Linked DNA regions of Homo sapiens: all the other regions are reported to be linked to region 1. The links are microRNA targets in miRTarBase. Many come from high-throughput screens and were not tested one by one. Region 1 holds a microRNA gene; each other region holds the end of a gene's coding sequence. Distances are from middle to middle.

Region 1 (4,064 bases):
TTCTTTTTTTTTTTTTTTTGAGACGTTTTGCACTTGTTGCCCATGCTGGAGTGCAGTGACATGATGTTGGCTCACTGCAACCTCCGCCTCTCAAGTGGTTCTCCTGCTTCAGCCTCCCAAGTAGCTGGGATTACAGGCACCCACCACCACGCCTGGCTAATTTTGTATTTTTAGTAAAGACGGGGTTTTACCATGTTGGCCAGGCTGGTCTCAAACTCCTGACCTCAGGTAATCCACCCACCTCAGCCTCCCCAAGTGCTGGGATTACAGGCGTGAGCCACTGCATCTGGCCTTCTTTCCTTTGTTTATTATTTATTTATTTTGAGACAGGGTCTCACTCTGTCACCAGGCTGGAGTGCAGTGGTACAATCATGGATCACTGCAACCTCTCCCTCTCCCACGCTCAACTGATCCTCCCACCTCAGCCTCCTGAATAGCTGGGACCACAATAGCTGGGATCACAGGCATGGACCACCACACTTGGCTAATTTTTGTATTTTTTGTAGAGATAGGGTTTTGCTATGTTGCTCAGACTGGTTTTGAACCCCTGGGCTCTAGCGGTCCTTTCTCCTTGGCCTCCCAAAGTGCTGAGATTACAGGCGTGAGCCACCGTGCCCGGCCTGGATTACAGGCATGAGCCACCGCACCTGGGCCTGTTTTATGCATTTTCTAGAGGAGAAACTGGAAGCTCAGAGAGGCTAAGGGACTTGCCTAAAGGCACACAGCTAGGAAGTGCTGAAGGTTGAGCCCAGGCCCTCTGACTGGGAGCATGGATCTTTCCACCCTGCAAGCTGTCTTCCTCGAGGGCACACACAGGCTCTTCCTTTGAGGCAATGGAGTGTAGTGTTTACACAACAGAGATGGGTTTGAATCTCAGCTCCTCTTTTTTTTCTTTTTTTTTGAGATAGAGTCTCGCTCTGTCACCTAGGCTGGAGTACAGCGGCGTGATCTCAGCTCACTGCAGTCTCCCCCTCTCGGGTTCAAGTGATTTTCCTGTCTCAGCCTCCCAAGTAGCTGGGACTACAGGCGCCCGCCACCATGCCCGGCTAATTTTTTGTAGTTTTAGTAGAGACAGGGTTTCACCGTGTTAGCCAGGATGGTCTCGATCTCCTGACCTTGTGATCCACCCGCCTTGGCCTCCCAAAGTGCTGGGATTACAGGAGTGAGCCACTGTGCCCGGCCCTCAGCTCCTGTTGTAGCCATAATGCTTTGGGCGAGTTCACATCTCTGGTCCTCAGTGTTTTGCCTGTTCAATGTTGGCAATGTCGCTGTCCTCACGATGGTGGCTGAGACAAGGAGTCAGTGAGATAAGGCACATGGTCCTCATTCAATAAGCCCAGCTGACAGGGTTGTCATTCACCTTTGCACCCCATGCGCGTACCCCATGCCTCCATGCCTCACACCCAGTGAGAGGGGCTAGGCTCATTTTGGGTGGTACCCAGGCCTGGCCTAAGCCCTGTCCCTCCCTGCAGGCCCCCAGTATGGCACACTGGAGAAGGCCTGGCATGCCTTTTTCACGGCGGCTGAGCGGCTGAGCGCGCTGCACCTGGAGGTGCGGGAGAAGCTGCAAGGGCAGGACAGTGAGCGGGTGCGCGCCTGGCAGCGGGGGGCTTTCCACCGGCCTGTGCTGGGCGGCTTCCGCGAGAGCCGGGCGGCCGAGGACGGCTTCCGCAAGGCCCAGAAGCCCTGGCTGAAGAGGCTGAAGGAGGTGAGGCTGGGTGGGGGAGGTATCCGAGACAGGCTCCTTCCTGTTTGTTTGCAAGGGATCGAGGGGGCCAAGGTGTGGCATCCAGGGTCCAGAGTGGTCTCCATGCATGCCAGGTTGAGGCTTCCAAGAAAAGCTACCACGCAGCCCGGAAGGATGAGAAGACCGCCCAGACGAGGGAGAGCCACGCAAAGGCAGACAGCGCCGTCTCCCAGGAGCAGCTGCGCAAACTGCAGGAACGGGTGGAACGCTGTGCCAAGGAGGCCGAGAAGGTACAGGCCACAGGTCCCAGCCCTGGCCCCCGCCCAGGGCACGGCTTCCTGAATGAATCTTGCTCCCTGAACATCTTGTCCAGTCCCCAGCACCCTTATTACCCTATTCCTCACCTGCCACCCTCTCTCCAGATGATCATTTAAAGGAGGAACCTGACAAAAGGTGATGCTTTACTAGGGAAAGAAATGGAGTTTCAGGCACTGGGATGACTTCAGCAGTTGAGAACTTCCAGCTCTTTTCCTTGCACAGTACCCTTTGCCCGAAGTGTCCTTTCCTGCAGCTCTGGATATGCAAATCCTCCCCATCCTGAGATGCTGCAGTTTCCACCTCCTCCAGGAAGCCTTTTCTGATTTCTCCCATCCTTTCCTGTAGGTTGACCTCATTTCAATCCTCACCAGACTCTTTTATATGCTGTGCCTGATGTCACCTCCCTTGTTAGGCTGCTGGGGTCCTTGAGGGCAGGAGCTGGGTCTTGGGACTGATTGCCCCTAGTGGCTAGCCCTGGGTCTAGCAGCCTATGGCAGTGTCTGGTAAACACTGGTGGAGTCCTGGGTGGAAGAAGGTCTGGTTCTCACCAGGCCCCTCCTCTCCCACCCAGACAAAAGCTCAGTATGAGCAGACGCTGGCAGAGCTGCATCGCTACACTCCACGCTACATGGAGGACATGGAACAGGCCTTTGAGACCTGCCAGGCCGCCGAGCGCCAGCGGCTTCTTTTCTTCAAGGATATGCTGCTCACCTTACACCAGCACCTGGACCTTTCCAGCAGTGAGAAGTATGAACTGCCTGGTGGGCATGGAGATCTGGGGTAGTACTGGGTCTCCTCCATCTCCCCGAGGCCCTGGCTGGGACTGAGGGATGCAGGGTCTAGACTTCCTAGACTGAGGGGTGTGCCTTGGGTCATAGGTTCCATGAACTCCACCGTGACTTGCACCAGGGCATTGAGGCAGCCAGTGACGAAGAGGATCTGCGCTGGTGGCGCAGCACCCACGGGCCAGGCATGGCCATGAACTGGCCACAGTTCGAGGCATGTGTTCCAGGCGGGGTGGGGATGGGAGGTGGGATGGGCTCCCACTCAGCTCGGCCAGGGCTAGGGATGAAGTAAGTGAAGGTGGTTCAGATGGCCCCACCTGACTATAAGCACTGTCCCCACAGGAGTGGTCCTTGGACACACAGAGGACAATCAGCCGGAAAGAGAAGGGTGGCCGGAGCCCTGATGAGGTTACCCTGACCAGCATTGTGCCTACAAGAGATGGCACCGCACCCCCACCCCAGTCCCCGGGGTCCCCAGGGTGAGAGCCAGGAGCGCGGCTGTGGCAAAGAAACAGCTCTGCCTCCCGCCCTCCTTTCCTTTCTCCTTGGTTTCATTTCTTTCACACCTGAAATGGGTTGAAAATTGGTGCCAGGGACCTGAGGGCCTACTTAGTAGTTGTAATGATACTGGTTCTCATAGTGGTTTAGATTTGCTGGGCATTTCCCACATTCCCTCTCGTTTATGCCTTAAATCAGCTGCGTGTGGCAGGAATTGCCTCTTTGCTCACAGTCGGGCATGGCGAGGTAGAGCTAGAATCTTTAGTACCTCACCTGACTCTCCCAGGTGCCTCTGGGGGTAGGGAGGCCTTTGCCCTGATCCTGGGTGAGATCTCCAGCCCCGTGTTCCTTGCACTCTGAGCTGCTCCCTTTGCCTCCCCTCTCCAGCACGGGGCAGGATGAGGAGTGGTCAGATGAAGAGAGTCCCCGGAAGGCTGCCACCGGGGTTCGGGTGAGGGCACTCTATGACTACGCTGGCCAGGAAGCTGATGAGCTGAGCTTCCGAGCAGGTACCCTGGGACCCCTTTCCTAGCTTCAGCCTCTGCCTTATCTGCCTGAGCAGGGGTGTCAGAAAGGGAAGCCAAATACCCACTTCTTAAGGGCCAGTCCTCTGTCCCTTCAGCTGTTCCAGGTCCAGATAGCTGGTGCCTGGTGGCTGCATTCAGGGTCTGGGGTGGGGCAGCTTGCTGACCTTGACCTGCCTCTGCCTGAGCCATGTCTTTGCTAGCTGGGCTCTGGGACCACACCATCCCCCTCAGTCCTTGACCCAGTTGCAG
Region 2 (4,064 bases), not on the chromosome of region 1:
AACCTAACAGGTGAAACGCAGACACAAACCTCAAGGTCCTTGCATTCTAGGACAATGTATTCCATCCATTTGTAGCAGCAGCATATTAGAACACACACAGGAAGTACGTGAGCTGCTGTTGCATGGCTAGACATTCACAAGTCACTTGATTCAACAGAGATCTGAAGGTCTAAGATGAAGAAAGCCATTTCACACAACAAATGGCCTTCAGAAAAAGACTGAGAAAAAAAAAAAGAACACTAAGCCTATGTGTTTTGGAGAGGAGGTGCGGAATGCCATAGGTTATTAGGAAGCAACCTGGTATATTTGGCTGGATTACTCTAGCTACACCCTGGGCACAGATCCTAATGATGCTCCCAAGTACAGTGAGAAGCCAACAGTTACAGCTTCGTTGCTAACGTGCCCCATGGGCCAGGCAAATCCTCCTCCTTTCTGGGGTCTCAATTTATCTCAGTTAGCATTGATGGTGGGGGCTTGGCCTAGCTGATCTTTAAGTCGTCATTCAGCTTTTCAGGAAAAGGCAACAGATGAAGATGTCTACTTTGATACCTACTCTGCACAATGACAGGAATAGGGTAGTCCAGGAGAGCCCCAACAGGACATGAATAGGTGAGCAGACATACTGGTTCAAAGTCATTCCCGGCTGAATTTCAGAGAACAAGGTATGAACATGCCAGGGAAAAGCAGCAGGATCTGACAATGGATTAGACACAACAAGCAAAAGAAGGTATCTCGAATCATTGAAGGCAAGTTGCTTTAAGGAAAGAATATTCCAGAAATTCAAAAGTACAATTTATCTAACAAATAGGTATACACTTTTCTCTAATGTGGGAAGTTCACACATTCTACAGTAATGCCTTGTCCTCACTGGAGAAGTATTTAAGCTTTACCAAGTGCACCAAGCACTGCACTAGGCCCTGTATATGGTGTTCACCGCAACAGACGTGGAATATTTATCACCAATAGGGAACGTTTGCAAGGAGCAGCCTCTAACACCCGACATAGTTTTTTGAGTGCATCTCAACTGCCCACCCGGAGATTAAGATGCCCTCTGCTTTCCGCCTTACATCATGCCGTCTAAATAATCATGGAGCACTGTGAGCAGCCCAGATGATCCACACGATGCTCTGAGGCTAACATATGATAATTCTGCTTTTGAGAACATGTTTTTTAATTAAGAAAAATAAGCAAGTTCTTTCCCCTATCAAAAAAAAATCATTTTTCCTTCTATAATTTCACATGCAGGGATGCATTAAGAATTCACAGATCTGAAGTTTCTTATTCTTGCAAAGATGACCAAATAATTACTCTGTCCTTAAATATGTAAACTGAAGTCAATTAACCAAACACACCCCTAATCATTGTATTTACTTCATCACACAAGGGCTGAACCAAACAAAATGAGAAATAAGTCAGAATAAACTCTGTGCAGTTTATTCTCATTACAGTGTTCAACCAGTTTGACATATAAAGATAACACACTTTAACAGTAAATGTTGGGAGGCACACATATATTCCCATTCTGAAAGAAGACATGTTATATATACGGAAAAAAATGCAGCAAATATTAAGGTATTCAAAGTAATTTTTTTGAACTCAGATGTGACATATTTACAAGAAAAGTGTGTACGTTTTAAAATAATTAAATAATTTCCATAGACTTATAAAAGAATTGAGATAAATATTAGGAGACCCTGACAATCACCAGAACATTTTCCTATGCTATCGAACAAGGATAGTTCTATTTTAAAATGTCCCAAAACAGAGCTAATATTTTGCCACCATGAAATATATCAAATTGCAAATACTAAAGTGAACATGCAATGTGGAAGCTGTACCAAAATTAAACAGCATTAGGTTCTTAAATATTGCAAAGTGTCTATTTAAGATTTCTCGGGTGTGTTCATGAAAAAGGAACTTTCAAAAAAGCCATTAAAATGAATATATCAGCTGAAAAAGTGATAACTCATTAAAATCTCTTTATTCTATCACTTTCAAATGTAGCTGCAAAAGAGAAAAAATCTTAATGTAACTTTAAAAAAATATTAGCTTATGAATAAAAAAGTTGAGTGGTGCATTCTTTATGCATACAGATTTTTAAACTGATATTGTATAATTCTAATACATCTTAACCTCTGGACTGCACTGCTGTAGTAGGAAATTTTTCTGTCTCAGACAAGAAGTCATCTAAGAAAATGAAAACGAGAAATTTTCAATGATATGCATGAATTCAAAACAAAACAGTACTGTAAAATGGCAAAATATAAAAATAGCAGCATGTGAAATTCAAGACTGTTTTCTTAAAGCAAATGTTTAAGACTGAACCTCAAAAACGGTACTTATGGGCCGGGCATGGTGGCTCACGCCTGTAATCCCAGCACTTTGGGAGGCTGAGATGGGTGGATCACCTGAAGTCAGGAGTTCGAGACGAGCCTGGCCAACATGGTGAAACCCCATCTCTACTAAAATACAAAAATTAGCCAGGTGTGGTGGCATGCACCTGTAATCCTAGCTACTCGGGAAGCTGAGGCAGCACAACTGTTTGAACCCACGAGGTGGAGGCTGTAGTGAGCTGAGATCACGCCACTGCACTCCAGCCTGAGCAACAGAGCGAGAGCCCGTCTCCAAAAAAAAAAAGCAGTACTTACTCAAACTGGTCTATAATTCAACGTCGGAAACTAAAGATTCTTTAGAGAGGTGCTTATATCTATATCCCTATGATTAAATGTATTCTCAAATTTGTTTTTTAAAACATATATATTGCACAAGTAGTAGAATACCAGCATTCTGGTATCTCTAACATAAAATCCTATCTTAACACATTCAACTATTCTACTGAAAATTAATTTTATCACAATGTTTAAAATCAGTCACGTAGGACTTTTAAGCACATTAATCTCAAAACATTCCTAAACAAGATGAAAAAACACAGGCACTTGAATGTAGGCTATTAGTGACAAAAAGTAGAGGTCACAACAATTTCATGACTAAGGGCAGTTATGTCTTTACATATAAACTTGAGGTCTTTCACCAATCCAAATATAGAAATAACAACTATTTACAAAACTTGGATAAGAAAATCAGATCTCCCAAAAATTTCCTACCAAATAATTTTTGCGGAATAAAGCAGTGACTGCTCCAAGGCCTGATGAAGCTTTTTCAAACAAATGTCTAAGACACAGTTGTTTCAATTCTAGTTTTCTTCTTTTCTCTATGCCGGTATAACCCACAACCCTTACTGTTGGTCTATCCATATCCTCTATGCAAAATAAGTCACCTCAAGATTCAGGGCATCAAAAATGGTTATAATTTCAAAATAGTCCACATTTTAGTATAAATTTTACAGCACCACAGACATCATGAGTTTAGGTATCTTGGTCTGGCAATATTTCATGTGGTAATATCAACCAATAAGAATGTGTAAATATTGAACCTTTAATAGGAAGTCATTGTAGCATTTTTTAAATGACCAAAGTTATTAATAAGCATTTTTAATGCTTTAAGTTGTTAAACATTTAAACTGTCAAAATCACTAAGAAAAAAATATTACACATACATTGTTACCACCCGAATGAGAACACACAATGCTTCAGACAGATGATACTGAGATATTTTGGATTTTTCCTTTTTCTTTCTTTTTTAAAGAAATTATATTTAGTTTGGCCACTCCCTAGATTCTTGGTTTACCAGCTTATAAAGAGTACACCTAAGAGGCAGTATAATATACGCACTAAAAACCATTTCCCCCTTTATCATCTTTGGCTAGAAGCCTCATGAAAGGAAACTGAGGACGGCAGAGGCAGGCAGGCTCCGTGCGCTTCTGCCTCACACGTCACTGACCGGAAGGCTCGCATCGTCCAAGTCTACTAGGTCACAATCTTTTTCCTGAGGGCCATTTTTACTTTGAGGTCTTAACAGAGCTTGTTCAGTCACTTTGGAAGCTGGTTCTCTTGGAGAGACAGTCTGGACCTTGAAGTTCCCTGGCTTGACCTTGGCAAGAGACTCGTAAAATCCTCGCTTCTCCATGGTAAAGGTTGAGACCAAAGAGTTGCTGCGAGAGGCTG
Region 3 (4,064 bases), not on the chromosome of region 1:
GGCAGAGTTTCGCTCTGTCACCCAGGCTGGAGTGCAGTGGTGCAATCTCGGCTCACTGCAACCTCCGCCTCCCGGGTTCAAGCAATTATCCTGCCTCAGCCTCCCCAGTAGCTGGGATTACAGGCATGCGCCACCACACCCGGATAATTTTTGTACTTTAGTAGAGATGGGGTTTCACCATGTAGGCCAGGCTGGTCTCAAACTCCTGACCTTGTGATCCGCCTGCCTCGGCCTCCCAAAGTGCCGGGATTACAGGCGTCAGCCACCGCACCCGGTCCAAAATACCAACTTTTAAGGGAGCAGACAGAGGAAGAGAAGTCCAAGCTGACTTTAGTTGGACATTAAAAGCAAAACATGGTGATAATATTGTCCTTCCATGTTGGAATTATTCTTAGAATTACCGCCCTTGATCATTATACTTTTGCAGATCATTTAAATCTGCTTTGCAATATTCCCTTGACTAGAAAATTAAATTCTACCTAGCACTATTATCAACCAAACTCAACTCGTATCTGCCCTCTGAAGTCCTGCAGACAAACCTTTGAAGTTTGAAGCCAGCTGATGTGAACCAACTCAGCTCTCTTCTTGGATTAGAGATTCCCAGTTCCTCCAACAGTTTGTCCTATGATGATTTTCAGCCTTCATTTCTAGCAGTCATCTCCTGGACATACTACAATTTGCCCACAAGCCTAGCAAGCCATCCTCTGGAAGTATTAGGATATTCGTGCACAGGACACTAGAATTATCACATTTCTTGTTTTGGAGACTACACTTTTATTAATGCAGCCTAAAATTAAGTTTATAAGCAGCAACATTAAACTATTAGCTGTTTGAATACATAGCTAAAATGTACTCCCTCCTCCCCTAACATAAACATGTAGCCAACTCTTCTCCCCTCAGCCTGTACTTTTCCAGTTGATTTTTGTTTAGCCTAATTGTAGGTTTCACATTTCTGCTTTTTTCTTTTACTCATATGAAAACCTCTGGCCCTTTCATCGTGGGGCATGAACCGGCCAAGACACCTGATAATAGAAAAAAAAAATCATAGACAAACATGTAGCAACCATCAGACCATGGTGAATGTAAAGAATAGACCCTCATGAGGCTGGGCGCCGTGGCTCACACCTGTAATCCCAGCACTTTGGGAGGCCGAGGTGGGTGAATCACCTGAGGTCAGGAGTTCGAGACCAGCCTGGCCAACATGGTGAAACCCCACCTCTACTAAAAATACAAAAAATAGCCAGGCATCGTGGCATGCACCTGTAATCCCAGCTACTTGGACGGCTGAGGCAGGAGAATTGTTTGAACCTGGGAGGCAGAGGTTGCAGTGAACCAAGACTGCACCATTGCACTCCAGCCTGGGCAACAGAACAAGACTCCGTCTCAAAAAAAAAAAAAAAAAAACCCACAAAAAACAAAAAACCAAAACAACAACAACAAAAGAATAGACCCTCATGAAACTCCAGGCCTATGGAGAATATTTTGATCCAGCTACAAGCTTCTGGTTCTATTGTCAATGTCCAAGCTTAATAAGAAAATAGATTAAAGATAGGACATGTTGCAGTCATTGCCTGATTAATTCTATTTTTCTTGAATTGCTTGCTTATTGATTAGAACTGTTTTTCCATTCCCCTCTGAAATCTCTAAGTGATGAAAAGTTCGAGTTCCTTTAGTGGCACAGGACAGGGGCTCAATCAAACCCTAGAATGATTCTCAGTCAAATGTGAAGCAAACAGAAAAATTCTTACACACTTAGGAAAGACATGGCATAAAAGTCAACCTCAGAAAGACAGGCAGCATTACCATATGGTACCTCCAGCAGACAGCCAGGCAGCATTACCATATGGTACCTCCAGCAGAAAGACAGGTAGCATCGCCATATGGTACCTCCAGCTGAAGGCGGAGGACATGAACTCATAAAGGAGGCCATCTGCTCAGTTCTGGGCTTTTCTTCCCCAAAGAGGAAGGCTTGCCATGTCCACTCTTTGTTAAGCCAAGGCATCAGATTGGTTCTCTATAGTTCCCACATCCTTGTGCATCTTCCTACCTGTGCCCTATTAATGGACAGGGGCTGTCTGATGCATTTGCTGAAGCCAAAACTTCTTGGGTTTGGGTTCTGGCTCCACAATTTACTGGGACCTGTGGCCTTCAGGAAGCTTAACCTGTCTATAAAATGAAGTTAGTAACAGTATATATCTGACCTGTGAGGAAAAATCTTAATACATATAAATCACTCAGAGCAGAGCCAAGCACATACAATGGACTCAGTAACTGTTAAGATACTATTTCTTCAGTGTTCCTTGGCTCCAACTCATTTCTAACACAGGTAAAGGTCCTCTATTGCTTGTTTGGCTTCCCCAGTAAAGATAAATCCAGGCTGAGTGAGTTGTTAGCATGTAGATGGGTGAAGACTTCTTAAGAAAGCAGTGTTAAGGTTGTAGGCCACATGGTAAAACACAATTTTTATGGTCCCGAATTTCTACCGATTGGGAAGACAAAGCAATTTCCTCCTGCATATACTTTATTCACACATGCTAAATCTCACTAAACAGATCACACTGTCAAGGAAGATGGCTAAGGAGAAGCTAGGGTTGTCAAGGTAATCCTTGCTTCGGCCCTGTTTTGCAACAAGGTAATAAACAGCCAGAACAGACTGGAGTGAAGCAGGTTAAGGGTGAGGAGAGAACACAGTGCAGTGCAGGGTGTGGAAGGCAGCTCACAGTCAGGGAGGCAGCAGTTCTAGCCAATCAACACTTTATTTTTCAAGTCAACACCTGCACAGATGTTAGTGTCCACTTCCTGACCCTAGTAGGGGGTCCCACTACACTTGGATCACCCAGAGGAGCAGTAAGGAAGCTCCTAATCTCAAGAGAGAGCACATGCTCACCAACTCCAGTGCTGGCGCCATGTACTGCGGGATCCCTGCTCTCCTGCATCATGAAAGGCCGGGCTGAATGGGGCAAGGATGCAGTGAAGGTTACACAGACTACAGTGACCTAAGAGTGTAACTACTGGCCTGACCCACTGCCCCAGGTTTACTCTTTACTTCCCAGACCAGGAGCCTCCCTAAAGCTTGGCCAGTGCCCACGGGATAGGAGGAGCTGGCAAAGGATGGGGTTGAGCTGCTAAGGACAGGACACAGCAGGGAAATAAAGCAGAAAGGAACACAAGACAAGAGAAAAATTATAAAGTGCCTCAACTAAACAACCAAGTGGGACATGAGGGCAGAGCAGCACAGGTCCCTGAGGATAGGAGGAAAAAGAAAGGGCCAGACCACCAGGGCTTGGGGCATAGTGGAATGAGAATAGAGATGAGGCAGGGAGGCAAGCGCAGGCTGTGGGAAGGACTTCCCTAGCCCTGTTCACATCCACTAACCCAAATGGAAAATTATTTACAAATTTAAAACCAATCCTAGGCACAGGTACTGCACCATGCCCAGGACAGCAGGCAGGCAGGCAGGCAGAGGGTGGAATAGCTACCATCCGACAGCCAGCTTCCCCACACACTGCCCCACCCCAGAGTGGTAGGCAAAGGAGGAAACAGCAACACTCCTAGCCAGGAAGCCCTACTGTGCCTGCAGCTCCTTCCTCAACGGCTGGCTCATGGCTCTGCCACGGCCTGAGCTTCTTGGTCTGACTGTACCAGAGAATGGATGTCGGGCCCCAGGGGTGGAGCATCAGGGGGTTTTGGCGGTGTCTCTGGCTCCAAGCCCAGCTCTGCATTCAGCTGCTCCAGCTCCCCCTGATCCAGCAACTCAAAGTCCTCAGTGGTGAGTGCCTCTTCTTCCTCAGGGGCAGGCAGGGGCTGGGGTGAGTCCTGGGGAACAGGTGGGAGAATGGAAGGGGAGGGGGCTGGGTCACTTCCAACAAGGCAAAGTGGAGGTGACAGGGTGCCGGGCAGAGCAGTGAGGCCACCACTCACTGTCTCGGGGCTCAGTGTCTCCACTGGTCCTCCAGGGGAGCATTTCACTCCATCTGGGGGGGACCCTGCCCCATTGAAGTGCGTGTTCACAAAGTGGAGGGGGGATGAGAGCCGCAACAAGGTTTCCTTAGCTGCCACATCCT
Region 4 (4,064 bases), 18 Mb from region 1:
CACGTGGAGACTGGTGTTCCCAAACCTGGCATGGGTTTTGAGACCTTTGCTCCAGTCAGTGTTAGAATTGAAGCAAAAATCTGTTGAAATGCAGCATGAAGTTGGTAGGCTTACATACAACACATAGTATTTACTGCAGAGGAAGCATTGTGAATAGCCACTCTTGTTCCTGGAATTCAGGTGTACAGGTGCGGTGCCTTGGTCTTCAGAAAGAAGCAAAGCCTGGCATGGGGCTCATGCCTGTAATCCCAGCACTTTGGGAAGCCAAGGCGGGAGGATCACTTGAGGCCAGGAGTTCAAGACCAGCCTGGGCAACAGGCTGCCTCTGATTTCATGAGAAATTTAAAAATTAGCTGGGGGCCAGGTGCAGTGGCTCATGCCTGTAATCCCAGCACTTTGGGAGGCCAAGTCGGGCGGATTACTTGATATCAGGAGTTCAAGACCAGCCTGGCCAACATGATGAAACCCCATCTCTACTAAAAATACAAAAATTAGCCAGGTGTGGTGTCGGGTGCCTATAATCCCAGCTACTCGGGAGAATGGGGCAGGAGAGTTGCTTGAACCCGGCAGGCAGAGATTGCACTTAACCTTCTGGAGGAAATGTCATCCAGGAGCCAGTCAATGCCAGGCAGTGGGTTCTCCCCAGCAGTGGGGCTGCAGCCCTTGACGTACCAGTGGTGGCTGCAGAGAGTCCAGATGCAGGGCTTGGGAGAACAAAGGTGCTGGTGGTGGCCAGTGACCGCAGACCCTTCCCTCCCTGCTCAAGGGTCAGCCCATCCAGGAAGCCTCCCCGGCCCCTGGGAGAGCTTATCTGTTCCCCGGGGCACCTGAGCTCTCTGTACAGTGCCACGCCAGTGCCACCCCTTAGTGTCCCATATAAGAGAGGATCCTGATAGGCGGCACTGCATAGGGCTGTCCCTAACTGTATTGCTGAATGGAATGGGTAGTACTTAGAACAGTGTAGGGAAAAGAGAGATCAGACTGTTACTGTATCTATGTAGAAAGGGAAGATAGAAGAAATTTCATCTTGACCTGTACCCTGAACAATTGCTTTGCCCTGAGATGCTGTTAATCTGTAACTTTGCCCCAGCCACTTTGCCCCAACCCCTTTGCCCCAACCTTGAGCTCACAAAAACATGTGTTGTATGGAATGAAGGTGTTTTTTTTTTTTTTTTTTGAGATGGAGTCTCGCTCTGTCGCCCAGGCTGGAGTGCAGTGGCGCCATCTCGGCTCACTGCAAGCTCCGCCTCCTGGGTTCATGCCATTCTCCTGCCTCAGCCTCCCGAGTAGCTGGGACTATAGGCGCCCACCACCACACCTGGCTAATTTTTTGTATTTTTAGTAGAGACGGGGTTTCACCGTGTTAGCCAGGATGGTCTCAATCTCCTGACCTCATGATTCGCCTGCCTCGGCCTCCCAAAGTGCTGAGATTACAGGCGTGAGCCACCACGCCCGGCCTTGGAATCAAGGTTTAAGGTCTAGGGCTGTGCAGGACGTGCCTTGTTAACAAAATGTTTACAGGCAGTATGCTTGGTAAAAGTCATCGCCATTCTCTAGTCTCAATAAACCAGGGGCACAATGCACTGTGGAAAGCTGCAGGGACCTCTGTCCTGGAAAGCCGGATATTGTCCAAGGTTTCTCCCCATGTGAGAGTCTGAAATATGGCCTCGTGGGATGAGAAAGACCTGACCGTCCCCCAGCCCGATACCCATAAAGGGTCTGTGCTGACGTGGGTTAGTAAAAGAGGAAAGCCTCTTGCACTTGAGATAGAGGAAGGCCACTATCTCCTGCCTGCACCTGGGAACTGAATGTCTCGGTATAAAACCAGATTGTACATTTGTTCAATTCTGAGATAGGAGAAAAACCGCCCTATGGTGGGAGGCAAGACATGTTGGCAGCAATGCTGCCTTGTTATTCTTTATTCCACTGAGATGTTTGGGCAGAGAGAAACATAAATCTGGCCTACGTGCACATCCAGGCATAGTACCTCCCCTTGAACTTAATTATGACACAGATTCTTTTGCTCACGTTTTTTTGCTGACCTTCTCCCTATTATCACCCTGCTCTCCTACCACATTCTTCTTGCTGAGATAGTGAAAGTAATAATCAATAAAAACTGAAGAAACTAAGAGACCGGTCCCAGTGTGGGTCCTTGGTATGCTGAGCGCCGGTCCCCTGGGCCCACTTTTCTTTCTCTATACTTTGTGTCCTATTTCTTTTCTCAGTCTCTCGTCCCACCTGACGAGATATACCCACAGGTGTGGAGGGACAGGCCACCCCTTCACACAGAACCCTGCAGAGTAAGCAGCTGCTAGGACCCTGTGCCATGAAAACATCTGCCAGTTTTGCCACTTGGATTGGACCCCTGGGGTGGCCTCATTTCCTATCCTTTCCCAACCTGGCACTGCTTCTGAGTTCCTGTAGCCTTCAGGGAAGGCCTCAGTTACCCCTGCCTGATGTGGCCCCCCTCCCACCCTCTGGCTGCACTCTCTCCTACACATGACTCTATGCACCTCCCCATTTCCCAAGAGCCATTGCTTTTTTTTTTTGAGACAGAGTCTCGCTCTGTCACCCAGGCTGGAGTGCAGTGGCGCAATCTCGGCTCACTGCCAGCTCCGTCTTCCCGGGTTCACGCCATTCTCCTGCCTCAGCCTCCCGAGTAGCTGGGACTACAGGCGCCCGCCACCACGCCCGGATAATTTTTTGTATTTTTAGTAGAGACGGGGTTTCACCGTGTTAGCCAGGATGGTCTTGATCTCCTGACTTCATGATCCGCCCATCTTGGCCTCCCAAAGTGCTGGGATTACAGGTGAGCCACCGCGCCCAGCCGGAGCCCTTGCTCATCATGCCTGTCCTGTGATCCCCTCTGCCTGAATCTGTGCTGGCCTTGTACAGCTGTTCAGGTTGTCCACTGCACATGGGTTCCTGGCTGCAACAGAGAATTGGGAGCTGAATTTCAGCCCATGTTCCATGCAAAAAGTTGGAGCCCTGGTCTGCAGCTGTGTCTGTTTTTCTAATTCATACCTATGAGAGTTGGATTTCCCCTGGTGAACTGTCTTCCCCTTCCTCTACCTAGAAAACTACTCGCGCTTTACTCCCAGCTTTAATGTGACCTCCTTTAGGAAGCCTGCAGATGGAATCAGTTGCACCGTGTCCCATGCTTCTATAACTTTTTCTGCATCCCTTTGACATAGCCACAGTTCACCATCGACTCCAATGATCCATTCCTTTCTGTCCCCTGCTAGATTGAGGGTCCCAGGTGGTCTCTAACGCTGTTGAATCAACAAATGACTCAGCCAGGAATCGGGGCAAGGAGCGGTTTATTTCACAACTGAGTGAAGGATGAGGCCCACAGCCTCGGTAGCAGCAGTAGCAGCTCCTCCCCGCCCAGCCCTCTCTTCTTGGTATGGTAGCCAAAGGCCAGGTCAGGAGCCAGAGAGACAGCCAGGGCACAGCCCTCCCGCCATGGGAGCCGGGTGGCCACAGAGCAGCAGCGGGCAGCAGTAGCAGCAGCAGGCTGGGGTGGAGGAGGGGGAGTGTTAGTTTGGCCGGCTGACTCCCAACCCCCCATGGGTAGTGTTTGGTGAAGGTTGAGGGACCTGGACTGCTAGGTGGGGGGCATCTGGAGTGGTTCAGTCAGCTGTGAAAATGCGGCTGGAAATGTCATCCAGGAGCCAGTCGATGCCCGGCAGCAGGTTCTCCCCGGTGACGGCGCTGCAGCCCTGGATGCACCAGTGGTGGCTGCGGATGGAGTCCAGCTCCAGGACCTGGGAGGACAAAGGTGCTGATGGTGGTGGCCAGTGACTGCAGACCCTGCCTGCCGTCAGCCCCTTCCCTCCCCAGCCCAGAGGAACTCCACGCCTTCCTCAAGGCCCTGCTCCATGTCATCCCATCCAGGAAGCCCCGCCGGTCCCAGGGAGAGTTTGTCAGACCCCAGGGGCACCTGGGCTCTCTGTCCAGTTCCATGCCAGTGCTGCCCCTTAGTGATGTAAATGCAGCATGGGCTCCTGAGCATCCACCAGGATCCGGGCATCGTGCTAGGAGCCCCACACACCCTCTCTCAC
Region 5 (4,064 bases), not on the chromosome of region 1:
TCATTTGAGGTCAGGAATTCGAGACCAGCCTGGCCAACATGGTGAAACCCCATCTCTACTAAAAATTTAAAAATTAGCCCGGCGTGGTGCTGTGCACCTGTAATCCCAGCTCCTCGGGAGGCCGAGGCAGGAGAATCACTTGAACCTGGGAGGCGGATGTTGCAGTGAGCCGAGATCTCGCCACTGCACTCCAGCCTGGGTGACACAGCGAGACTCCGTCTCAAAAAAAAAAAAAAAAAAAAAAAGGAAGTGGAAGGGAGTGTAAAATACCTCAAAAAGGTGTAGGCATGGGTTAGCCGCTGCAGCCCCCACTGTGCAAACCTTAAGGGTGCATGTCTTCCAACAGTGGAGGAAGGCCCTGTCTTCGCCATGTGCATGGCGGGTGCTCATGACCAGGCGACGATGGCTAAGTGGATCCAGGGCCTGCAGGAGACCAACCCAACCCTGGCCCAGATCCCCGTGGTCTTCCGCCTCGCCGGGTCCACCCGGGAGCTCCAGACATCCTCTGCAGGGCTGGAGGAGCCGCCCCTGCCCGAGGACCACCAGGAAGAAGACGACAACCTGCAGCGACAGCAGCAGGGCCAGAGCTAGTCTGAGCCGGCGCGAGGGCACGGGCTGTGGCCCGAGGAGGCGGTGGACTGAAGGCATGAGATGCCCTTTGAGTGTACAGCAAATCAATGTTTTCCTGCTTGGGGCTCTCTTCCCTCATCTCTAGCAGTATGGCATCCCCTCCCCAGGATCTCGGGCTGCCAGCGATGGGCAGGCGAGACCCCTCCAGAATCTGCAGGCGCCTCTGGTTCTCCGAATTCAAATAAAAAGGGGCGGGAGCGCTGTTGGTTGTGCGCATGCGCAGTTTCCATTCTTGGTCTCCTTTTGGCGCCCTGGGGCAGCGAGAGACCGTGAGAAATTTCTCGGCGGCGCCGAAGATGCGCGCCACTTCCGGTCTGGCTCCTAACAACGGGGGAGGCTGGTAACCAGGGTGGGGGGGATGGCGGAGCGGGCGCTAGAGCCCGAGGCGGAGGCGGAGGCTGAGGCGGGCGCGGGCGGGGAGGCAGCAGCCGAGGAGGGCGCAGCGGGCCGAAAGGCGCGGGGCCGGCCGCGACTCACGGAGTCGGACCGGGCCCGGCGACGGCTCGAGTCCCGGAAGAAGTACGACGTGCGGCGCGTGTACCTGGGCGAGGCGCACGGGCCCTGGGTGGACCTGCGGCGCCGCAGCGGCTGGAGCGACGCCAAGCTCGCCGCCTACCTCATCTCTCTGGAGCGCGGCCAGCGGAGCGGCCGCCACGGGTGAGGGGGCCTGGCCCCGAGGGAGGGAGGGAGGAGACGCCCCCAGACCCCGCCGGGCTTTACCCCGCCCCCTCCGCTTCTAGGGCCAGCCCCCGGCACCTGCGGACCCCGCCCAGGAGCCGGGCCGGCGGCCTGGGTCTCGTACTGCCTGGCCGGGACGCGCCTGGCTCGTGGCCCCGCCTCCCATCGTTCCGACTGCCCAATCCTAGGGTGCACCCAGCCCCTCGACCCGCCTTCTGAGCGCTTGGCCCCGCCCGCTAGAACTCTGGCGGCCCAATCCTGGGACTGGCCCCACCTCCAGGCCTTGTAACTAACCAGGCCCTGGGGGGGCAGCCCCGCCCCCTCACCGGTCTCATCCTCCCCCGCTTAGTTCCCCACCTGGCCTGGGACTCTGGACACCCTGGGGCACTCAGCCCTGCCCTTCTTGAAGTTCTGGTGCCCCATCTGGGACTCCGTATGGCCCCATTCCCACAACCCTAGATCCAACACATCCGGGGGACCCTTCACAACCTGGACTGCACTCCCCTAAACCTATTTCTGTGAAGCAACTCAGCCCAGGGAGACTCGGATGAAGAGGAAACCCCTAGTTAGCTTGGCAGGTGGAGGGCAGAGAGGCCTGTCTTTGTAAATTCTCAGTCTTGAGAAGGAGCAGTGTGGATGGAGTTTTTCCCTTCCTGCCTTATATGTTGATGTGATGATTGAGTTAAAATAGGCAAAGAGCTTAGAAGAGTGCCTGGCAGGTAGTGGGTTCCCTAAGTATTAACTTTTACGAGGATGACGTTTATTCCGTATCACAAGCAGTGCCGCAAGGAAATCCTTGTTCTGCCCTGGTTTTCAGGTACACATGTTCTCATGTTTCTCTGGGGGGAGATTCTGAGAGTCAAGAATCAAACAGATCCTGCTAAGTTATACCCACCCCTTTCCCAGGACAGCAGGCTGGCTTATATGCTCAAGAGCAGGACTGGAAATGCTGGGAGCGCAAAGATACCTGCCTCATGGAGCGGACATTCTGGTGGGCAGAGGGGATGGCTTGTTCAAAGGTCTGGGGGGTTTTTTTGTTCGTTTTTCTTTTCTTTTCTTTTTTTTTGAGACAGAGTCTTGCTCTGTCGCCCAGGCTGGAGTGCAGTGGCACGATCTCCGTTCACTGCAAGCTCCGCCTCCCGGGTTCACGCCATTCTCCTGCCTCAGCCTCCCAAGTAGCTGGGACTGCAGCCGCCCGCCACCACGCCCGGCTAATTTTTTGTATTTTTAGTAGAGACAGGGTTTTACTCTGTTAGCCAGGATGGCCTCGATCTCCTGACCTCGTGATCCACCCGCCTCGGCCTCCCAAAGTGCTGGGATTACAGGCGTGAGCCACCGCGCCCGGCCCTCGTTTTTCTTTTTGAGACAGGGTCTCACTCTCTCGCCCAGAGTGGAATGCAGTGGCATGATCACGGCTTACTGCAGCCTCAACCTCGTGGGTTCAAGTGATCCTCTTACCTCCGCCTCCTGAGTAGTTGGGACCACAGGTGCACGTCACTCCACCTGGCTAATTTTTGTATTTTTTGTAGAGACAGAGGTTTCCCTGTGTTGCCCAGGCTGATTTCAAACTCCTAGGCTCAAGTGATTCTCCGGCCTCAGCCTCTCAAAGTGCTGGGATTACAGGTGTAAGCCATTGTGCCCAGCCCTGTTTGTTTGTTCTTGAGACAGGGTCTCACTTTGTCACCCAGGCCAGAGTACAGTGGCATGTTCATAGCTCACAGCAGCCTCAACCTCCCAGGCTCAAGGGATCCTCCTGCCTCAGTCTCCCAAGTAGCTGGGACTACAGAGGAGCCACCTCACCTGGCTAATTTTTTAATTTTTCATGGAGATGGGGGTCTCGCCATGTTGCCCAGGCTGGTCACGAACTCCTCGGCTCAAGGGATCCTCCGTCCTCAGCCTCCCGAAGTGCTGGGATTAAAGTCATGAGCCACCATACCTGGCAAAAGGCTTGTTTACTGCAGACCAGAAACATAAGTAAATTGTATCGTCCATGAGAGATAGGGGCTACGGAAAAAACAAAAGTGAAATGAAGAGTGTGAGTTGGAAGTTTAAATAGGGAGTTAAGGTGGTCACATTCAGAAGATAGCATTTCAGTAAAGACATGAAGGAACCTAGGAGGAGCCATGCAGATCTCTGGGGAAGAGTTGAGGCAGAGGGAATAGCAAAGGCAAAGGTCCTGAGGCAGGACCCTGCCTATTGTGTGCCAGGAACACTGAAGAGGCTTGTGTGGCTGGACTGCAATGAGTGAGGGGGAGAAGGGAAGACAAGGACAGATTGGTGACAGGGAAGGTCATCCAGAGCCATGGAGAGGACTCCAGTTTTTCCTCCCAGTGAGGTGGGAGCCTTTTCTTAAGTGCAAGATTTTGTACAGAGAAAGAAGTGGTATGGTCTGCCTTTATTTCCCCTGATGCCCCCCCCACCTTTTTTTTTTTTGAGATGGAGTCTTGCTCTGTTACCCAGGCTGGAGTACATTGGCGCAGCCTCAGCTCACTGCAACCTCTGCCTCCCGCGTTCAAGCGATTCTCCTGCCTCAGCCTCCCGAGTAGCTGGGATTACAGGCGTGCACCCCCATGCCCGGCTAATTTTTGTATTTTTAGTAGAGACGGGGTTTCGCCATGTTGGCTAGGCTGGTCTCGAACTCCTGACCTCAAGAGGTCTGCCTGCCTCGGCCTCCCAAAGTGCTGGGATTACAGGTGTGAGCCACTGCGCCCGGCGGGGTTGCAGATTTAAATGTAAAGATGAAACCATACCCGGGC
Region 6 (4,064 bases), not on the chromosome of region 1:
AAAAGACTCCAAATGTGGAGCCAAAAATCCTCACTGGTGAGAAACGTTTTTGGTGTCAAGAATGTGGGAAAACCTTTACACGTAAAAGAACCCTTTTAGATCATAAGGGAATACACAGTGGAGAGAAGCGCTATAAATGTAATCTATGTGGGAAATCTTATGATAGAAACTATCGCCTTGTTAACCATCAGAGGATCCACTCTACAGAGAGACCTTTCAAATGTCAGTGGTGTGGGAAAGAGTTCATTGGGAGACATACCCTTTCCAGTCACCAGAGGAAACACACCAGAGCAGCACAGGCTGAACGTAGCCCGCCTGCACGGTCTTCCTCTCAGGACACAAAGTTGAGATTACAGAAGCTAAAACCAAGTGAAGAGATGCCCCTCGAAGACTGCAAAGAAGCTTGCAGCCAGAGCTCCAGGCTCACTGGACTCCAGGACATAAGCATTGGGAAAAAGTGCCACAAATGCAGCATATGTGGGAAAACTTTTAACAAGAGTTCACAACTCATTAGCCACAAGAGATTTCATACTCGAGAGAGGCCCTTCAAATGCAGCAAGTGTGGAAAGACCTTCAGGTGGTCTTCGAACCTGGCTCGGCATATGAAAAACCATATTAGAGATTAGCCTGGGACCTGACAGTGACAGTGGGGGTGGGTTCTCAGTCCCCTGCTAGAGAACCCTTAATTATAGGCATTGTGGAGTAACTTTGATAAAGGGCCCAGCCCTTTCTGTTTTGGAAGCTAGTGACAGAATCCCAAGGATTTGAAAGCTCGGGGAGTCCCCAGCCTGCCTGCTAGGATGTGACGCTGGGGAAGTGCAGCACCATGTCCTTTGGAGCCCTTCTGGAGACTCCGGCCCCTAGGAGTGGCCTCTGCACCATAGCCTGCGGCTCCCCTATTCAGGTCTCCTTCCACAACTCTGAAGAGAGAGACCACTGCCCTTTGTGGTTGGACAGAATATCTGTGGCATCATGGGCTATGGCTGCTGGAAAGGGGCCAGTGGGATCCTAGATTTGTCTTCAAGTTTGGCCTGTGGCCATGCCTATTCTGTTGACTTTAAAAGCAGCAGCATCAAGAACTCCTAGCCTTCCCAAATGCCCCCTGGGGAGTTCTGGCTGGGGCTTCAGCCTTCCTGGCTGGCTTTTGGATATCTGCTAGGGGGTTAGAGTGGTCTCAGCGGCAGGTGGAGGAGAGCAGGATGCTGGGCTCAAGCGCTTGGCGTGTGGATCTCTACCAGTACCCTGTTGCCATCCCCATCCCACAGGCCTGCATAGGCAGCAGCGGTCCATCTGTTTAACAGAAATGTGCTGAGCACTCCCATACACCAGGCGCTGGTGTGTTTGCCAGAGACCCAGCAGGGACCAGAACAGATGAAAATCCTGCCATCTTGGATCTTTACAGATGACAAACAAATGGGATACGCAGTATTCTGGATGGTGATGTGTGTAGTGGACAAAGTGAATCAGAGAAGAGCAGAGGGAGTGCTGGATTGGGAGATCAGTCGTGATTTTAGATAGTCTGGTCAGGGAGGGCCTCAACTGAGAAGGTGAAATGTGAGCAAAGACGTGAAGGAAGCCAGGGAGGTAGCAGGTAGCTCTCTAGGGAGAGTTGCAGGCAGAGGAGATTGGGTCTTGACTGGTGTCCTCAGGAAGGAAGCCCCTGGGATGGAGTGCAGGGAGCCAGCTGGAAGGGAAGGAGAGGGGCCAGGGAGGCCACAGGCCCGGCCATATGAGCATCATGGGTCATTACGGGGGCTTGAGCTGGCTCAGAGGGAGGCAGGGAGCTTTTGGACAATTTTGAGTTGAGGAGTGATGTGGTTTGAATCTGAATTATATTTTATAAGGGTTAACCACAGATCCAAGGACTCAGTAAAAGGGTGAAAGGCTTCTCATGCAGTTAGCCTTGCTGCCAGTTCCCATAAATCAGACTCCTCCCCACTCCGTTTCTGAATTTTCTATAGGATCCTCGGCCTCAGCAGATATAAACGCTTACCATTGTTGTGTTCATGTCTCTAGCCCCTGCACACTGCAGGCCCCTCTCAGCTTCACATACCCCTCTCCATGTATGAGATCTGGTGCTAGCAATCAGATTCAACCCGAAGGAACAAGTGCATGTGCCTGCTGCTCTCAGGAGAAAAGGCAGCCTGTTCTGGGAGGAGCTCCCTCACTGGCCCACCCACTTGTGTTGAAGCAAAAAGCAAGAATCAATTACTTAAAGGCAAAGGAGTGATATTGCTAAAGCATGTGAGTAATCATTGCTTCTGATTATTGAAGAGGTCAGATTATGAATGAAAGGATAAAATGTTTTAATAGTAGAGCAGTGTCCTGACTATAGGGGCCCGTTCATGGAGCTGGTCATTTCTTGAAATGAGAAGAAACCAACCTGGAAGATGTCTTTTTCAGTAGAGTATGGAATAATCTTACCTGCTCTGGATTGCCATGAGCAGGTGAAAATGAAGGCTCTGATATTGTGTGGTGGTGTCACAGGATGGTGGGGGCGGGGCAGAAGTCTCCTGTTGGTGTTCTGATGCCTGTTCAGCTTTGTCCTCAGGAAGGTTTGGTCATCTTGGTTCTGCCATCCTCTTGCCTTCCTACGGCAGCAGCTGTTCATGGCACTGAAGATGTCCCTTCACTGTCCCAAAACTGGCACTAGAAGTGGCTGGGCAGGGGGGCCAGAGTCATAGGAAGGGTCTTGGAGTCATCAGATCTGGGTTCCAGGCATGGTGTGCCTTTTCTTGGCAGGATTGATCTTGAGCAAGTCAATGAACCTCTGCATCAATTTCCTTATGTGTGAAGTTAGAGTGCTTGGCTGTGCTACCTGATTCCTGAGATTGGTGAAAGAGGGCTTGGTTTACCAAGGCTCTCCATCAGGTGGTTGACCTCTAGGACCAGGGCCCTCTCAGAGGTGCAGCTTCCATGTCAGTTGGTGTTGTAACCATGGAAAAGTCCCTTTCCAATCAAACTTTTAGCACCCCTTTCCCCCCATCTCTGCTCCCTTTGCCACAGGATACCTTGTAAAGTTCCTGCCCCAGTATAGGGATATTTTTACTGTCTTTTTTATTTTTTGAGACAGGGTTGCCCAGGGTGGAGTGCAGTGGCAGGATCACAGCTTACTGCAGCCTTGACCTCCCAGGCTCAGGTCCCATCTGAGCCTCCCGAGTAGCTGGGGCTACAGGTGTGTGCCACCCTGCCAGCTAATTTTTTATATTTTTTTGTAGAGACAAAACTTTTATTTTTTTTTCCCATGTTGCTCATGCTGGTCTCAAACTCCTGGGCTCAAGCAATCCACCCACCTCTGCCTCCCAAAGTGCTGGGATTACAGGCGTGAGCCACTGTGCCTGACCTGTCATTTTTATAGAATGAAATGTGCTTATTTCTAAACATTCTAATCAAATTTTAAAATGTGCAAAGAATGAAGTGAAAAACTGAATTTTTTTTTTTTTTTGATACGGAGTCTCACTCTGTTACCCAGGCTAGAGTGCAGTGGCGCGATCTCCGCTCACTGCAAGCTCTGCCTCCTGGGCTCACACCATTCTCCTGCCTCAGCCTCCTCAGTAGCTGGGACTACAAGTGCCTGCCACCACGCCTGGGTTATTTTTTATATTTTTAGTAGAGACGGGGTTTCACTGTGTTAGCCAGGATGGTCTCGATCTCCAGGATGGTCTCGATCTCCAGGATGGTCTCGATCTCCTGACGTCGTGATCCACCCGCCTCGGCCTCCCAAAATGCTGGGATTACAGGTGTGAGCCACTGTGCCCGGCCAAAAGAACAGAAATTATTTTATCCTGAAGTAAGCTGTTTATATTTGGGATTATACTGAACCTATTTGTCCAATAACCTGAGTTTTCAAATAATTTTAGTTCTATAAGTACTATAATTATATAAATATTAATGAATTCAGATTAGCTGAAAGGAAAAAAAGTAGAAGCCTGACTACTTGGTGCTAACTACTAAAGATTTTGGCAGAATCAATGTTGGATTTGGCTTTCCTGTCCCTTCCCCATGCCAGCCCCCCAGAGTGTTCTGCCTTGTGCTGCCTCCCTTCACCTGGAGTGCCACACCCC
Region 7 (4,064 bases), not on the chromosome of region 1:
TCAGAGCCTGCCATCACTACCCCTACCCACTGCCTAGGAGTTTTTAGCTCATTTGGCTCTGGAATCTTCCTTCCTGGGTTGCAGATCCTGGCTCTACCACTCATTAGCTCTGTAGTCTTGGGCAAGTTATTTAACCTTACTTTGCCGCAGTTTCCTGAAAACAATCAGAATGCACCTGACACACAGAAGCCCTCAATATGTGAGTTACCACTGATTGGGTATAAAGGCCAGAATCTGCTCCAGTGGAACTGGGAGAGTTATTGGGGTACCCCCAACAAATGCACTTTTCCCCCTCCCAAACAGCTAAGAAGCTTCCCAAGAACGAGCCCCAGAATGCAACTGGTGCTCCAGGCCGAAACCGAGGTGTGGACCTCCAGGAGAACAACCCAGCCAGCCGGAGCCAGTGCTGCAGCAACTGAGCCCCCCTTGCCTGCCCGCTGCCCCCGCCTCCTCCGCCTGAATGACCCGACTGGAATCCACTCTAACCAATCGCACTTAACGACTCGGGCCACCACTGGGGGGGCAGGGGGAGGGGTCCACCATGATTTCTCCATATAATTTTGATCATAGGCCGGAGTGAGTCATTCCACCTGCACCTTTCTGTACAAATACTAATTCAATTTTAAGTCTTAAGTCACTTTTTTAATATATATGATCTTCTGCTCTTCCCACTTCCTCCCCTTTCTACTGCTCTCCCATTTTCCCTTGCTGGGAGTAGCCACATGCTCTTGCCCCCCAACCCTTGTATATGGGGACAGTGGGGTCAGTGCAGCTACCCTTTCTTTCCCTCCTGCGGAACAGCGGACCCAGCAAGAGCATCCACATCCTCACTTTGTTCGGAGTGGTCTTTGGTTTGGGCGGTGGGGCAGACCTTGGGAAGGGGCTTAGGAAGGGAGAGGCAGCTCTTCCTTCAGCTGGCTCTCATCAGGCTGCAGCCCCCTCCCCGCTCCCACCTCCCTGCTGGGAAACCACAGCATTATCACAGCATTATTGTGACAGCCACGAACCCATTGCCCACAACCCCTCCACCCTCGGTCACCCCAACCTCTGGCTCTGAGCCCTGTTCTGACCAAATCATGATGATGAGTATTTGGGGGTGGGTGGGTAAGGGGGGGAGTGGGAGGGGACGGAACCAACTTTTTCTGTATTTTGTATTGTATGTTTTCTTCAACATGTAACCAATCAGTATCTTGTCAATATAGTCAGCCGATCGATCGACCTCACAATTGTCTTCCTTGTCTTTCTCTGGCAGTTTATCAGACAGTGCCCTCTGTAGTTGAAGTTGATTTAAAATGAACCACTGAATCTTGTTAAACAAAATCTTCCCCTCTAATGTGAGGGGATGCTGGTGGTCATGGTAACCAAGAGAAAGAGGCTCTTACTGTTAGCAGCTCCGATGAGGTAGCTGACCTGGGCTGACCAAGTTTGAAGTTTCAGGGCCCGTGTTCACTTCTCCACCTCCCTTCCCCTCCCCCACCTACCAGATCATACTGGGGTGACATGCAGTGTGTATTTGATGATCATTAGTCTCTGAAACACCAGAAACAACCTCTTTGGGTTTTTTTTGGTTGGTCTTTACCAGTGAGAGGGTCTGGATCCTCTCTCTTCCTGAAGAGGAAGGAATCCCAACAGCCCCTGGAACGCTGGACTGGTCTTAAGGCCAAGACTGTAGCCACTGGCTTTCCTCACCACCTCTGTCCACGTCACCCCCCCACACCACATCCAAGTTGCCCCAGTCCAGCTCTCTACTGGTTCTGGAATCAGGTCTGGGCACTCAGCTCTCTGCTGCTACCTGTTGGAGCTGCTGCTCAGCTAGGGCCACACTCTCCTCCAATTTCTCCCAGGGCCACAGAGGCCTGATTCCCTTTTTTTTTTTTTTTCTTTTTTTGAGACGGAGTCTCTGTTACCCAGGCTGGAGTGCAGTGGTGCTATCTCAACTCACTGCAGCCTCCACCTCCTGGGTTCAAGCGATTCTTCTGCCTTAGCCTCCCAAGTAGCTGGAATTACGGGCACCCGCCACCACGCCCTGCTAATTTTTGTATTTTTAGTAGAGACAGGGTTTCACCATGTTGGCCAGGCTTGTCTCAAACTCCTGGCCTCAAGTGATCCACCCGCCTCAGCCTCCCAAAGTGCTGGGATTACAGGCGTGAGCTACCACAGTCGGCTTTTTTTTTTTTTTTTTTTTTTTTTTTTTGAAACGGAGTCTCACTCTATTGCCCAGGCTGGAGTGCAGTGGCACGATCTCGGCTCACTGCAAGCTCTGCCTCCCGGGTTCACGCCATTCTCCTGCCTCAGCCTCCCGAGTAGCTGGGACTACGGGCGCCCACCACCACGCCCGGCTAATTTTTTTGTATTTTTAGTAGAGACGGGGTTTTACCGTGTTAGCCAGGATGGTCTCGATCTCCTGACCTTGTGATTCGCCCGCCTCGGCCTCCCAAAGTGCTGGGATTACAGGCGTGAGCCACCGCGCCCAGCATTTTTTTTTTTTTTTTTTTTTTTTTTTTTTGAGACAGAGTCTCACTCTGTGGCCCAGGCTGGAGTGCAGTGGCAGGATCTTGGCTCACTGCAACCTCCCTCCACCTCCCAGGTTCAAACGATTCTCTTGCTCAGCCTCCCGAGCAGCTGGGATTACAAGCACACACCACCACGCCTAATTTTTGTGTTTTTAGTAGAGATGGGGTTTCACCATGTTGGCCAGGCTGGTCTCGAACTCCTGGCCTCAAGTGATCTGCCCGCAGAGGCCTGATTCTTGGTGGACCACCACCTTGAGGGTGCCTTTCCTGCCTCCTGTGCCTCCAGTCCCTCTACCTCTGACTTCCATCCCCAGAAAAGACAACGGACACCAAGGCTGCTGCACATCGCGTCGTTTGTTTACCGGGTCAGGTTGGAAGCCTTAGAGCCGAGGCTCCCGAGTCTCGGGGACGGTCCTGTTTGGGCTTCAGGGAGGGCCAGCGCCACACACTGGCCTCTGACCCACAGCTGCCCGGAGGGGGTCAGGCAGCAGGTCATGGCGGTAGGACTCAGGTTGGACGGGAGCATTTTCCGGTGCACCTTCTGTGACATGCGGTAACTGACCCTTTCCGGGTCCCTGACGTCCAGTTGCTGCTGTCCGGTCACCATCAGCCATTGGCCATCCACCTGCACCACCAGTTCCTCCGGGGCGAAGCCGTGGGCATCCAGCTTCATTTGGAAACCGTCTCTGGCATGGTCATTGTCCTCCTGAGCCGCTGGACTGTCCCTGAGCAGCCGCACCGGCATTGTGGCCACCCGGTTCCGTTCAGCAAGGCCCACGCTGGGACACCGGGATGCCACCCGGCTCTCGTTGGAGAAGGTGTTACCGACTCTCTGCATCCGAGTCAGCAACTAACTGCTGTCAAAGGGCGCGAGGCTCCCAGCGCAGAGCTAGGCGCACGGACGCCCGGAGAGGAGGGACCTCGCGCGGCCTACCCGAGCTCAGCTCCGCTCGCTCGGTTCCCTTCGCTTCTGCAAACGCAGGCGGAGTTCGGGATCAGCCACGCCCATCTTACCTCCAAGAGCCAGACTGTCAGCGCCCTGGCGCGCCCGCAGCTGCTCTCCTCCCAGACTCCGACCCTTTCTCCGCCCTTCCCCACCTTCGTTAATGGACCCGGGGAGGCCGCAGCTGTGAAGGAACTGGATCCACGACCAGGCCAGACCCGAGGGAGCCGCACCCTGGCGCAGCCAACAGCAGATTGATCCCCCAGCTGGAAGGGGGCTGTCTTGCCTTCTAAGGACCAGGCCTGGGGCAAGGATTGTTCCTAGACAGAGCCAGGGGAGGGCGGCCTTCCTGGGTCATCCACCCTACCTCTCCCTGACCACCCACAACCCCACGCGGACACGCGACACGAGGAGGTGGACTGGTCTCTCCGGCTGCATTAATTCTTCCCGGGGCGTCCTGTGCTGCAGGCTGTGGTCTGGGCTCTGGGGCCACAAAGATGAAGACGCAGTTGGGGCTTCAGGAGAGTGGCTCCCAGTGCACAGAGAAAGACCTAGCCCTCCTCCGCCTCACCCTCCACGTCAGTAGCCTTCTTGGTGACCATCATAAC

The links. Region 1 holds the annotated microRNA hsa-miR-6745 (UGGGUGGAAGAAGGUCUGGUU, at 2,528-2,548, shown strand). A microRNA usually pairs through its seed, bases 2 to 8, with sites in the 3' UTR of a target mRNA and lowers its output. Matches are read on the target gene's strand: a 7mer-m8 pairs with bases 2 to 8, a 7mer-A1 pairs with bases 2 to 7 and ends in A, and an 8mer does both.
Region 2: the mRNA of PLEKHA1 is a reported target of hsa-miR-6745. Seed matches in the 3' UTR shown: 8mer at 2,397-2,404.
Region 3: the mRNA of RETREG2 is a reported target of hsa-miR-6745. Seed matches in the 3' UTR shown: 7mer-m8 at 3,465-3,471.
Region 4: the mRNA of ARL2 is a reported target of hsa-miR-6745. Seed matches in the 3' UTR shown: 7mer-m8 at 3,521-3,527.
Region 5: the mRNA of ECSIT is a reported target of hsa-miR-6745. The part of its 3' UTR that is shown has no 7-base or 8-base seed match.
Region 6: miRTarBase lists ZNF445 as a target of hsa-miR-6745. Seed matches in the 3' UTR shown: 7mer-A1 at 2,173-2,179, 8mer at 3,285-3,292 and 7mer-m8 at 3,703-3,709.
Region 7: the mRNA of RAB5C is a reported target of hsa-miR-6745. Seed matches in the 3' UTR shown: 7mer-m8 at 1,025-1,031.

The regions. Positions count from the first base shown.
Region 1 is chr11:47,178,099-47,182,162 of GRCh38, reverse strand. MIR6745 (microRNA 6745) reads left to right here and starts at 2,426; the gene lies at 2,426-2,552. PACSIN3 (protein kinase C and casein kinase substrate in neurons 3) reads left to right here. Exons shown (of 11, transcript NM_016223.5): 5 at 1,473-1,708; 6 at 1,822-1,977; 7 at 2,577-2,752; 8 at 2,884-3,004; 9 at 3,133-3,269; 10 at 3,676-3,797.
Region 2 is chr10:122,429,700-122,433,763 of GRCh38, reverse strand. It overlaps PLEKHA1 (pleckstrin homology domain containing A1), which reads right to left. Exons shown (of 12, transcript NM_001001974.4): 12 at 1,419-4,064. The coding sequence ends at 3,826. Among named protein-coding and RNA genes, the nearest start is that of MIR3941, 15 kb to the right of the region's middle.
Region 3 is chr2:219,182,166-219,186,229 of GRCh38, reverse strand. RETREG2 (reticulophagy regulator family member 2) reads right to left here. Exons shown (of 9, transcript NM_024293.6): 9 at 755-4,064. The coding sequence ends at 3,601. Among named protein-coding and RNA genes, the nearest start is that of RETREG2, 5.9 kb to the right of the region's middle.
Region 4 is chr11:65,021,424-65,025,487 of GRCh38, reverse strand. ARL2 (ARF like GTPase 2) reads right to left here. Exons shown (of 5, transcript NM_001667.4): 5 at 3,304-3,767. The coding sequence ends at 3,633. All of the region lies in intron 3 of ARL2-SNX15 (ARL2-SNX15 readthrough (NMD candidate)), which reads right to left. Among named protein-coding and RNA genes, the nearest start is that of SNX15, 4.0 kb to the left of the region's middle.
Region 5 is chr19:11,502,711-11,506,774 of GRCh38, reverse strand. It overlaps ECSIT (ECSIT signaling integrator), which reads left to right. Exons shown (of 8, transcript NM_016581.5): 8 at 347-846. The coding sequence ends at 591. ZNF653 (zinc finger protein 653) reads left to right here and starts at 936. Exons shown (of 9, transcript NM_138783.4): 1 at 936-1,287. The coding sequence starts at 989. RefSeq lists silencers at 741-790, 951-1,620 and an enhancer at 1,771-1,840.
Region 6 is chr3:44,443,137-44,447,200 of GRCh38, reverse strand. It overlaps ZNF445 (zinc finger protein 445), which reads left to right. Exons shown (of 8, transcript NM_181489.6): 8 at 1-4,064. The coding sequence ends at 626. Among named protein-coding and RNA genes, the nearest start is that of LINC01988, 17 kb to the right of the region's middle.
Region 7 is chr17:42,122,138-42,126,201 of GRCh38, reverse strand. It overlaps RAB5C (RAB5C, member RAS oncogene family), which reads left to right. Exons shown (of 6, transcript NM_004583.4): 6 at 304-1,223. The coding sequence ends at 419. It overlaps HSPB9 (heat shock protein family B (small) member 9), which reads right to left and starts at 3,398. Exons shown (of 1, transcript NM_033194.3): 1 at 2,850-3,398. The coding sequence starts at 3,351. The coding sequence ends at 2,872. RefSeq lists an enhancer at 2,546-3,083.